2 separate regions of the Homo sapiens genome follow, and region 1 is linked to region 2. Evidence: fine-mapped expression QTL. A gene starts in region 2. The other region holds a variant in brackets. All regions are shown on one strand. Distances are from middle to middle. Region 1 overlaps BGN (biglycan). Region 2 holds the start of TREX2 (three prime repair exonuclease 2).

Evidence for each region. PIP is the estimated chance that this variant, and not a neighbour inherited with it, causes the effect.
Region 1: its variant is the best candidate, but not a certain one, in a credible set for the expression of TREX2 in unexposed skin (GTEx, PIP 0.63).

What each region holds. Positions count from the first base shown.
Region 1 is chrX:153,497,328-153,502,693 of GRCh38, forward strand. All of the region lies in intron 1 of BGN (biglycan), which reads left to right. Among named protein-coding and RNA genes, the nearest start is that of BGN, 5.0 kb to the left of the region's middle. The variant A/G (reference allele first, on the strand shown) is at 2,233.
Region 2 is chrX:153,442,887-153,448,239 of GRCh38, forward strand. It overlaps TREX2 (three prime repair exonuclease 2), which reads right to left and starts at 3,170. Exons shown (of 2, transcript NM_080701.4): 1 at 3,123-3,170; 2 at 1,587-2,609. The coding sequence starts at 2,544. The coding sequence ends at 1,834. It overlaps HAUS7 (HAUS augmin like complex subunit 7), which reads right to left. Exons shown (of 10, transcript NM_001385482.1): 10 at 4,782-5,023. The coding sequence ends at 4,992.

The DNA of each region.
Region 1 (5,366 bases), 54 kb after region 2:
TCCCAGGGCACCCTGCCTTGGGCTGCAGGCCGCTGGGTGGGCACCGGCTCCCTCGGAAGGCAGCGCAACCCGGGATCCTGCCGGCCCTGGCCCCCACCCTGCCGACCGGGCCTGGGGCGATCAGTGCCCCAGCTCCTGTCCTCTTCTGCTCAGATGCTGGGTTGGGAGATCAGGGGCCACAGCTCGGCCACTCAGAGCCCTTTCCGCAAGTCTTAGAGGGACCAGCTGTGGGGTGTGTGCAGAGGGGCTGCGCTGTGGGGAGGGCGCATGGCTCAGTCCTCCTGGCCTGAGGCCCGCCTAGCCTAAGTGGCCTCCAGGACCCATGGCCAGGCCCTTCTGCAGCCTTCCAGAAAGAACCAGCTTCCCAGGGTTCCCTGGGGAAGGCCTGGGGCCACCTCCTCTGGAGGGGTGGGGCCTGTGCTTCATTCCTCCTTCCCCAGGTCCCCTTCCAGGCCAGAAGATCCCCTCCACCACTTGAATCCCACAGCCAGAAGCCCCTTCTGGGACTCTAGACTCCTGGGAACCATCCCAGCTGCCCCCTTCGCTGTTTCGCTGTTTGCCTTCTTCCCCTGCCCCGTCATGGCTCTAGGTCAGAGCAGCCTCTGGGGTGGCTATGGAGGGGCCACCAGCCTTGGCTCTTCCGAGGACTGCAGAACCCTCCCACTCCCAGCTTCCCACCTGCGCAGCTCTGATCCCAGCCAGCCCAAGGGGCAGGGTCAGGTCCCGGCTCCCTGGCAGGCCTGGTGAAGGTGCTGCCCATTCCCATGAGGCTCATCTCTGAGGCTTAGGGGCCTGGGGCTCTAGCCAGCCTTCTTGCATGGAACTCTCCTGGTCCACTGCATCTTAAGCCTGAGCTCCACTTAAACACTGGCCTGAGATAAGCTGGAGGACCAGGGGCCCAACGGACTCTGTGGGCCTCTTGAACTTGCCTCTGCTGGCCATCCCAGTCCTGTTTGGTCCCTGAGGTGTTCAGATGGGCCAAGGGGAGCATGGCGGGCAGACTCCTGGGTGGCCAGAAGATTAGAAGGCAGCCCTGTCCCTGGAGGCAGGGGAAGTCTGGGAAGCCAGTGTGACTTCTATCCTCTGGAAGTCTGAGTCCCTGCTTGGCCTTGACTGCCATCCCATGGTTCTTGGAGGCTGCCCTCATGCAAAGAGACACACACCCATGGGAGCCCAGCAGTCCCAGGAGCCTGAAGCTAAGCAGGCTGTGGGCCACCCTGGCTGGCTGAAGGAGGCTAATCCCAGCCCAGCCTGAGCCCCCGGCAGAGAGCGGGTTGCGGCAGGGAGGGGCTGCAGGAAACCTTCCCCTCCCCTCCTGGCCTTGGTGGGCCTGTACCAGGGAGGGAGGGAGGCAGGGCCCCAGGCTCTGGGGGGCAGGCCGGGAACACCTTCCCTGGGGCCCTGAAGTGCTCGCCTGGGGAGACGATGGCTTTTCCAGGAGACTCCCTGCAGACAGAGGCAGAGGTGAGAGGCTGGGCGGGGGCTGCCCTGCTGGCTGTGTTGGGGCTGAGGAGGGGCTTCTGGATCTGTGGGCCATAGGGAGCTACTGATGGTCCTCAGAAGGGCCATGCTTCCAGGGGAGCCCCCTGCACAGCCCCGAGAGTGTGAAGCGTGTCAGCTTTGGGGCCTGTGGCACTGTGTGCATTGGGAGAGGGTGGGTCCAGACATGGGGGCAAGGACACAGACGGACAGACAGACAGTGTGTGCAGCCCCAGCTCTGCTGTTTCCTCACCGTGTGGCCTTGGGCAAGAGTTTGGGGCCAACTTCCTGAGCCTCAGTTTACCCCTTCATCAAGTTCTAAGAGCATTGCTTCCTTCTTATAGTCAACGGGGGACGGCAGGATGCTAAGTAAAGAAATCACATGAGTCCCCTGCTCTGCCTCTGAGAGGTGACAGCATCCTCCCTTTTCCTTGGAGACTCTAGCAGGAGGCCCCGGATCTCTTCGGAGAGTGGGAGGGGGCAGCAGTAGTCCGTGTGCAGAGGACCAGGAGCGCACAGTGGGAAGGGCTGAGTCCCGCACTCCGCCGACTGTGGGGACAGGCTGGACCTTGACATGGGCGCCACAGGCTGCAAAGGGCTGGCACAGAGAGGTGGGAGGTGGCTGGGCGCATCAAGGGAGAACTCCACCCTTGTCGCCACCCTGCCAGAAAACCTCTGGAAAGGATTTGAGCAGCAGATGAGCCGGGGTTTCCCAGCCCCTCCACACGTGGCTGCAAGGGGAGCAGACGCCCA[A/G]GCGTGGCTGCCTGAAGGGCATGCTCCGGCAACGGCAGGGGCTTGGAATGTGGCACAAGGTCCACCCCTCCCCACTCCAGCCCCCAGCCCCTCAGGCAGCCACTCCCACAGATGAACGCACACGCCGGGCTTTGGCAAGGCCAGGGAGGGTACACATCCCCTCTCTGGTTGATGCCCAAGTACAGGCTGGAGCCATCGGCGGGGAGGGACTGGTGGACTGGGGCCTGGGAGAGTGGCAGGGGGCAGGCCGGGTGTCAGCGGGGGCACAAGCACCAGGCTGCTGGTTGAAACTGGGCCCAAAAGGCTTTGGAGGCCAGAGGGGAGGGGAGGAAGGACACAGTCCCGGGGACCCCGCAGGGCTGCGTGGAAGGTGGCACATGTGTCAGAGTTCAGGTCGGGTTGCTCAGGGGGGCAGACGCCCAGGGCTGAGGCTGCGGAGACAGCATCCGGCGTCTGCCACTTGGCAGCTGTGAGCCACACCATCTGCAGGCGAGCTCCCAGGGCCCGCCAGACCTCAAGCCCTGCTCCCGCCGCCCTTGGCCTGGCCTGAATGCCTGGCACGGACCCTCCATGTTCTCAGAGGCTGCCAACGCATCTTGTTTGGCTGTGACCTCGAGCAATCCAGTGCAGAGGACTGCGCTAGCTTTCAGAGGGGCAGACAAGGAGGGCCCTATTGGGGTGGTGGCGGAGGCTCCAGGAAGCCCAGCCTCCTCCCTCACTCACACCTGCGGTCGCCAAACCTGGGGCTTATGCCATTGCCGCCCCTGTCCTTTGCTCTAAAGAGATGGTATCCAGGGAGCTCAGGGCACACTTTGGTGGGGCTTGAAACCCTCCCTGAAGTCCCTGAAGACACACCCAGAGAGGCCAATGAAGGGAAACTGAGGCCCAGAGGCCTCAGTTGTGGTGGTGGAGAGTTGAGGACTGGAGGGACTTGCTGTGGGTCTCACAGGATCTGACTATGGGGTATTCCTGCTTCCTGGGCTGGGGTCCCCGCCTGCCTTATCTATGTGTGGATATATGTGTATGTATGTGTATATGTATACATATGTATATGTGAATGTGTGTATGCATGTGTGTATAGATGTGTGCATGTATGTGTGTACATATGTGTATGCGTGTATACAGGTGTATATGTGCAGGTATGTATGTATGTATGTGTGCATGTATGCATGTGTGTGTGTGTGTACGTGTGTATAAATGTGTATGTGTGCGTGTGTGTGCATGTGTGTGCATGTGTGTATGTGTGCATGTGTGCATGTGTGTATACATGCATGCATGTGCGCATGTGGATGTACATGTGCATGTATGTGTATAGATGTGTGCATGAGTGTGTGTGCATCTGTGTATATATGTGTGTATATGTGTATCATATGTGTATGTGAATGTGTATACATGGGTATGCATGTGTGAGTGTCTAGGTGTGTGCATGTATATGTGTGTACATGTGTGTATAGGTGTGTGCACGTATATGTGTGGATGTGTGCATGTATGTGGATGCATGTGGATGTGTGTACATATGTGTTTTGTATAGGTGTGTGCATGTGTGTGTGCACGTGTGTACATATGTGTTTTGTATAGGTGTGTGCGTGTGCACGTGTGTGTATGTGAGCGTGTATGTGTGCATCTGTGTGTGTGTTTGTGTGTGTATGTGTGTACGTGTGTGTGTGTGCATGTTCTGGCAGGAGGGAGGGGCTTGGTGTGAGGTGGTGGGGAGAAGGCAGGGGCCAGGCTTTGGGAGGACAGCTGAGCCTATACTGCCAGGACCTCCCAAACTGCCACCCCCAGTCTTGGGCATTCAGGCTCTCACAGGCCCAGAGACATGGCTGGAGCCCTGTGGCTGAGGAGCACAGCTGAGAGCTCAGGCGGGGCCTGGAGGCGCCAAAGCTGAGTTCCAAGTCAGGCTGAGTGACTTGGGAGAAATCAGAGCCTCTCTCTCGGCCTTAGCTTTTGTGTCCATAAAATGGGGATACTCATCAGGCCAGCTCCAGGGGATCCTATCCTTCCCCCCAGGCTCCCCTGGCTCCCTCTGACTTCATGGGCCCCTTGCTGCCTCCTGTGGGCTCAGACACGGAGCCTGCCCCTTCCTCGGGAGAGGTCTCAGTTTTGTGCCAGTTCTTTGAGGGGAAATGAGGGATGTGCCGGGAAGCCTGCCCGGCCCCCGCCCCTCCAGCCTGCCCACTGCTTGGGCACAGCCATGAGCCATGGAAAACCAGCCAAACCTTGTCCTTCTGCCTCTGTCACGGGGCCCGGGTGTATGGGCCTTCCAGCCCTCAGCCTCCCTCCCCGCTCTGAGGGAACCTCTTCCCCTTGCCCCTTTCTCAGTCTCTTGGAGACCCCCCAGACATCCTACTGTATCAGGCAGCCTGCCTCCAGAGCCCTCGTTGCCCCACAGCTGGTCCCGGGAACCCGCCTGAGACCCCGATGGCCAGTCTTGCCGTGACTGGCCTGCCCTGTGCCTGTGCCCCCTGCCCTGGTGGAGGGCCCGATTCCCTAACAGGAGGGCCTGCAGGGAAGTCCCAGCTCCTGGGGAGACCCCTTGCCCCGGGGCAGGAGTCCCTGTAGAGTCCTCCTCCAGGCCAATGCGTGGGTCCTGGGGGGCTCCAAGCTGGCCATGGTCAGATGGTCCTCTGTCCCCTCGGCCTTCCCCAGCCCCTCCCCACAGCCTCCCGTAGGCCCAGCCGGACCACCCCAACCCTACCTGTCCAGGTGGACTGCCCACCCTGGAGCTTGCCAGGGCTCTGGCGGGGTGTCCCAGCCCTGACTCACTCTCCCTGGGAGGTAGCGGCTTTGGCAGGGGCATCGGCAAGGAGGGGCAGGGCAGTCTCCTCCCTCCCCCACTCCATCTTGCTCTCCTGCTTCCACCCTGCCCTTCCTGTTCTCTCCCACTGCTCCTCCTCCTCCTCCTCCTTCTGCCCCCGGGTGTCCACTGGCACTGGGAGAGGGTCCTACAGCGGCAGCAGGCATCGGAGGCCCTGCCCTGCCCTGGAGGAAGGGAAACACCATCCAGGTAGGTGAGTGTTGAGCCTTCTCCCTACTTGGGGGCCAAGACCCTCCGGGCGGTTCCCCTAGGTTCTGCTGGGCCGGCCTGAGGCTGGCAGGCCCTGGGCTGCAACTGTGGGATCTCAAGGCTCAAA
Region 2 (5,353 bases):
CAGCCCAGGGCTTGTGACACTCTCCCAGGTGATGCTCTCCTCGGGAAGCTTGGCTGTGACAAGATCTTCTGGTTACTAACCACATTCCCAAACTAGGTCCTGTGGGGCTTCCCCAGACCGTGCCCCCTCCCCTCCCCTGCTGCCACTGTCCTTGGCCAGGCCCATAGCTCTCCCTCCCTCCACCAAAGCCCTCCATGCTCTGCTTCTGCCCGCCTTGCCGTCGCTGTCCTCTCCAGCCCATTCTCCATGCAGCAGCCTGATGTGGTTTGGACGTTCGTCCCCTCCAAATCTCAGTTTGAGATGTAACCCCCAATGTTGGAGGTGGGGCCTTGGTGGGAGGCGTTTGGGTCATGGGGTTGGATCCCTCATGAATGGCTTGGTGCCGTCCTCACCTCCGCAAGGAGTTGAATTCTCGCTGTGAGTTCACCTCCCCGCCTCTCTCTTGCTCCCCCTTTGCCTTCTGCCATAAGTGGAAGCTTCCTGAGGCCCCACCAGTTAACAGATGCCAGCACTGCTGAGCCAAAATAAACCCGCTGTCTTTGTAAATGACCCAGCCTCAAGTATTTCTTCACAGCAACTCGAGAACAGCTCGGCACGCAGCCCAAGCAGCATATGGCAGAAGCCTACACCAGACTTTTCCCCTCTCCTGCTCATGACCCTCCGCGGCTCCCCGCTGCCATCAGGGTCAGGCCTGGCCCGGGCCACAAGGAAGGTCTGAGGTGGTCACTGCCTGTGCTCTGGCCTCACCATCCTACCACCGTGCACGCTGCAGTGGCTCCAGTCATTCTGACCTACTTAGGGCTTCCCAGATTGTCCAGCTGGCTGGAGGCTCAGGCTTTGCTCATGTGAGTCACTCTCAGGCGTGGCCACCCCATCCCTTCTTACCTGACCCAGCGTTGGTGACAGGTCTCTCCCCACCCATGAGGCCTCCCAAGACTGGAAGTGCCTCAGGGTGGGGCCCCTGAGGCAGGTTAGCAGGGAACCCAAAGCACAGTGCGGTGGCCAGAAGCTGCCCTCCCACCGAGCGGCCTCCTGGCCCTACGGGGACACGGGCTGCAGGATAGGCTCCCTTCCAGGGTCACCCTCACAGCACCAGCCACCCCACCTCTGCTCCGTGCACCGTCAGGGCCCTTAGCATGTACATGTACATGTGCATGCCCACATGTGGGGGCACCTCCCTTTTCCCCAGCACCCCGTTTCTTAACATTTCACCCTGTTACCACTTCACAGAGCAGGGACAGAGACTCCAGGTCCCACGGCGGGCAAGCGCTGCAGCTGAGCTTTGTGCCCAGGCAGGCGGCCGGCTCTGTGGGCTTAAGGCCCTACTCATGGCTTCTTTGGGCCTCTGGGGTGACAATGCAGATGGGCGGCAATCAGCCCACAGCCACAACCCATCAGCCCTCAGACCAACCCAAGAGCTTGACGTCTCCCTACCCAGCCACCCACGGTCCTCACCGCGAGGAGAGGCCATAGGGGGGCGGCCCTGGAGGTCTTGTGCTGGCCCCTGGCATGGCTCACCGCCTGGCCCTGCTCAGCAGGGGGTCGAGGGAGTCCAGCCCCTAGTATCTGGCCAGCTAGTCGGAGGGTGAGTAGTTGGCAATGTTTATTGGGAAACAGCAAACTCTGCTGGGCACCCAGGCCAGCCGGGAGAGCACGGCCCTGGAAGCGGGGCCTGGAGAGGAATCCAGGGCCGTATGGCTGGTCAGGCAGCCAGGGAAGGCCTGGCAGGTGCACGGACCTGAGGCTGCCCAGATAGGAGGAGCCGGGGGTGGTAGAGGCCAGCTGAACGGTGGAGGCTGGCACTGTCCATGGCACAGGAGGTGGCCCTGGTGCTCAGGCCTCCAGGCTGGGGTCATCAGGCGGCAAGTACATGGGCTCGATGTGGGCCCACCCACGGGCCTGCTCATCGGCCCAGGCGAGCAGCTCTGCGGCGCGGTGCAGGAAGATCAGGAGCAGGGTGTGCACGTCGCCCTCGGCTGAGTGGGCTGCGCTTGGCTCTGCCCGGAAGTAGCGGTGGAAGAGGCTGCCGAGGCTGTAACCCTGGCGGCCCCGGGCCCGGGTGCCGTGGCTGTGGGCGCGGTCCAGGCCCCGCAGGGCCGGCAGCGTGTCCAGGCAGACAGTGTCCCGGGGCAGGCGGGCACCCAGGCGCCGCAGCTCGGCACACAGCAGGGGGAAATCATAATCAAAGCCATTGTGGGCCACAAGGCAGATGGGCCCTGCCTGGCGGCTCAGGAAGGCCTGCAGCGTCCGCACCACGGCGCCATCAAAGCCAGCCTTCCGGCATCGCGCCAGGCCCTCACTGCTCAGGCCGGTGATCTCGCTGGCCTTGGCAGTGAAGGGGCGCTCCGGGCACATGCACAGCGTGAGCTTGTCCAGGACCCGGGGCAATACTAGGGCACCAGACTCGTCGTGCTCCGGGTTCTCCAGGGAGGAGCGGTGGACAGCAAAGAGGGACAGCTCGGCAATCTCGGGCTCCACACTGGGGAGCCCAGTGGCTTCCAGGTCCAGGAAGACAAAGGTCTCGGCCCGGGGTGCCTCGGACATGGTGATGTTCCCACGGGGATAGCAAGTCCTCAAACTGTCCGAGCGAGAGGCACAAACCCTGAGGACTGGAGAGAGGGGTTCGCCCGGGCCCTGCTGTGTACCATCCTCCCCCTAGCCAAAGCTCTGACCCTTCTGGGGCTCACTTCCTGCCACCCCCGACCACAGCACCTGTGACCTTTGGCTCTGGGAGCGTCAGCCCCACTCCTGTCACCTACTGAACAGAAAAGGCAGGCCTCAGAGCGCTCTACTGCCTGCCTCCAGCCACAGTCCCCAGCAGGGATTGGGAGAGGCAGAGGCAGCTCAGGGACCGCACCTTGGCGGGGTCCAGCCCCTTCACCGGAATGCCTTGGCTGGGAACCTGGGGCATAGCACACTGGGTCTCCAGCCCTGGAACCAGCTGCCGGGAAGCAGGCAAGCAGCCACCCGAAAGAGCCCATGCAGTGCACCCAGCTCCCGCTGGGCTCGACCTCCCCACCCTTGTCCCTGGCACACAGGTGCTGGTCCCGAGCTGGCCTCTGCCTGCTTGCCCCCAGGCTCCCGGGGAGACTGTCCTTGCCAACCCCACCACACCAGCTTACCTGGGGCGGGCACTGACCGGCTTCCTGGGCTTCTGGGCACCTGTCGCCACACAGGCTGCTCTAGGCGGCCTTTAATCAGCGGCCGCAGCCCGCCCCCAGCTGCCTGTTGGCCAACAATGAGGCCTGGGGCCTCAGGACCTGCGCAGCCGGCTCGCTCGCCACCCCCTCGCTAGCTCACAGCCACTGAGACACACGCCCCGTGTTTACAAATTAGGAAGCAGGCCCCGAGCTCTTCACAGGCACGGGGAGGAAGCCAGAGTGGTGCGGAAGGCAGTAACCTCCACCTAGCCAGGCTGTGGCTGCCAGGCCTGGCAGGCCTGGGGTCAATGCCTCCCCCATGCTGGGGCCAATGCCTCCCCCATGCTGGGGCCAGTTACACAAAGGCAACAGGTCCTCTTTGCCAGGCCTCAGTCTCCCCGTCACTGGAGATCAGGTGCCGCTCGTGGGGATGAAGCGAGCTCTGGAGTGTGACCAAGGTGCCCACACATGCCGTGCTCAGCCTCCAAAGGGGAAGGGGTGCTCCCCCAAAACCTAGGGATGGGGCAGCCTCGGGAGATGCTATCTGCTTTAAGGACGTCGCTTCATCATGTCTACCGTGCACCTAACAGTGGCTGCTGGGGAAGGAAGGGAGGTGGGCCTGGCCCGGGAGCTGTGCAGGCCGCAGCTGAGCTAATGCTTCCTCCACCACAGATAAGCAACGTTAGGGGGTGGGCCAGGAGCGCCGGGACTACAGGAGGAGTGAAGCCCAGCCCCTCGGACCCCAGGCTCAGGGACCTGCCCTGTCTATCCCGCTCCAGGCAAAGGGCACCAGGTCCTTCCCGGTCCTGCGAGCAGTGGCGCCCTGAAGACCTCATTCTGGAGCAAGAGACAACAGCCCTTGATGGTGGGTGCACTGCAGGGCCAGCCCCATGCTGGGGGCACAGAGAGGTGACCAAGAGGAGTCCCTTGGCCTATAAATCAGGTGGTGCACCTGCACCATGGTGACCACAGGCCTGCCCGGCCTCCCACCTCTCACAGTGGTGGCTGGGGGATGCCTCAGGCGACTGGGATGGAGGGGGGTCTGGCACCTGGCTCCTCCTGGCCTCCTTGCCTTGTGTGCCCACAGGGACCTTGGGGAAGCAAAGGAGATGGTGCCAGGAGGGAGCAGGGTGGGGCGGGCAGCAGCAGGTACAATGGCCCCAAGGAGGCAGAGGCCCTACCAGTCACGCCTGTTCCGGTACTCACAGGGAGGGAGGCAGCTGTGACAGGCACACTGCTCAGGGAGATACTGGGTCACCCTGGGAAGCCCAGACAGCATCTTCCTGGACAACCAGTCAGGCTGAATTCCCCAGCCCAGAGCTGAGCGCCCAGCCAGGGAGGAGCAGGAAACTGGTACCCCGCGGGGGATCCAGGGGCACTCAAGGAGGGCGGCTGAGGGGTGCGTCTCGCACAGGACCCTAAGGCCAGCCGGGGGAGGCGACAGTGGGTTCTCTGCTTTCAAGTGGCTGGCAGCAGCAGGGAGGAGTGGAGCCACAGGAAGAGGACGCAGCCCAGGCCCGCCAAGATGACAGGAGGGCCGCCGCCAGCCTGCCCAGACCTGGGCCACCTGAGCAGCTCAGGACAAGGGGAAGGAGAGAGACATAGAGCTGAGGAAGCAGAAAGCAGGCTGGAGGCAACTGCTTAGAAACCAAGGCTTTCTTTGTGTCCAAGTCAAACCGCCCGTCTGTCTCTCCCTCCCCAAAGGGGCCAAAGGTCCCTGCCTAGAGCACAACGTGGGGCTGCAACGGCTTCTGCTGCCACAATCATCCATCCTCGGCCAACTCGATCTTGGGAGAGGGCTTCCTGCCCGCCCCATCCTGTGCTTTGGCGTAGGCCATCACTGAAGACTTTCTATTTCTCCATTAGTTCATTCATCTTGGTAGCTGCAGAGGAAAGAAAAGAAACCAAAAGGATGGTGGGAGTGTAAACTAGTTCCACCATTGTGGAAGTCAGTGTGGCGATTCCTCAGGGATCTAGAACTAGAAATACCATTTGACCCAGCCATCCCATTACTGGGTATATACCCAAAGGACTATAAATCATGCTGCTATACAGACACATGCACACGTATGTTTATTGCAGCACTATTCACAATAGCAAAGACTTGGAACCAACCCAAATGTCCAACACTGATAGACTGGATTAAGAAAATATGGCACATATACACCATGGAATACTACGCGGCCCATAAAAAAAGATGAGTTCATGTCCTT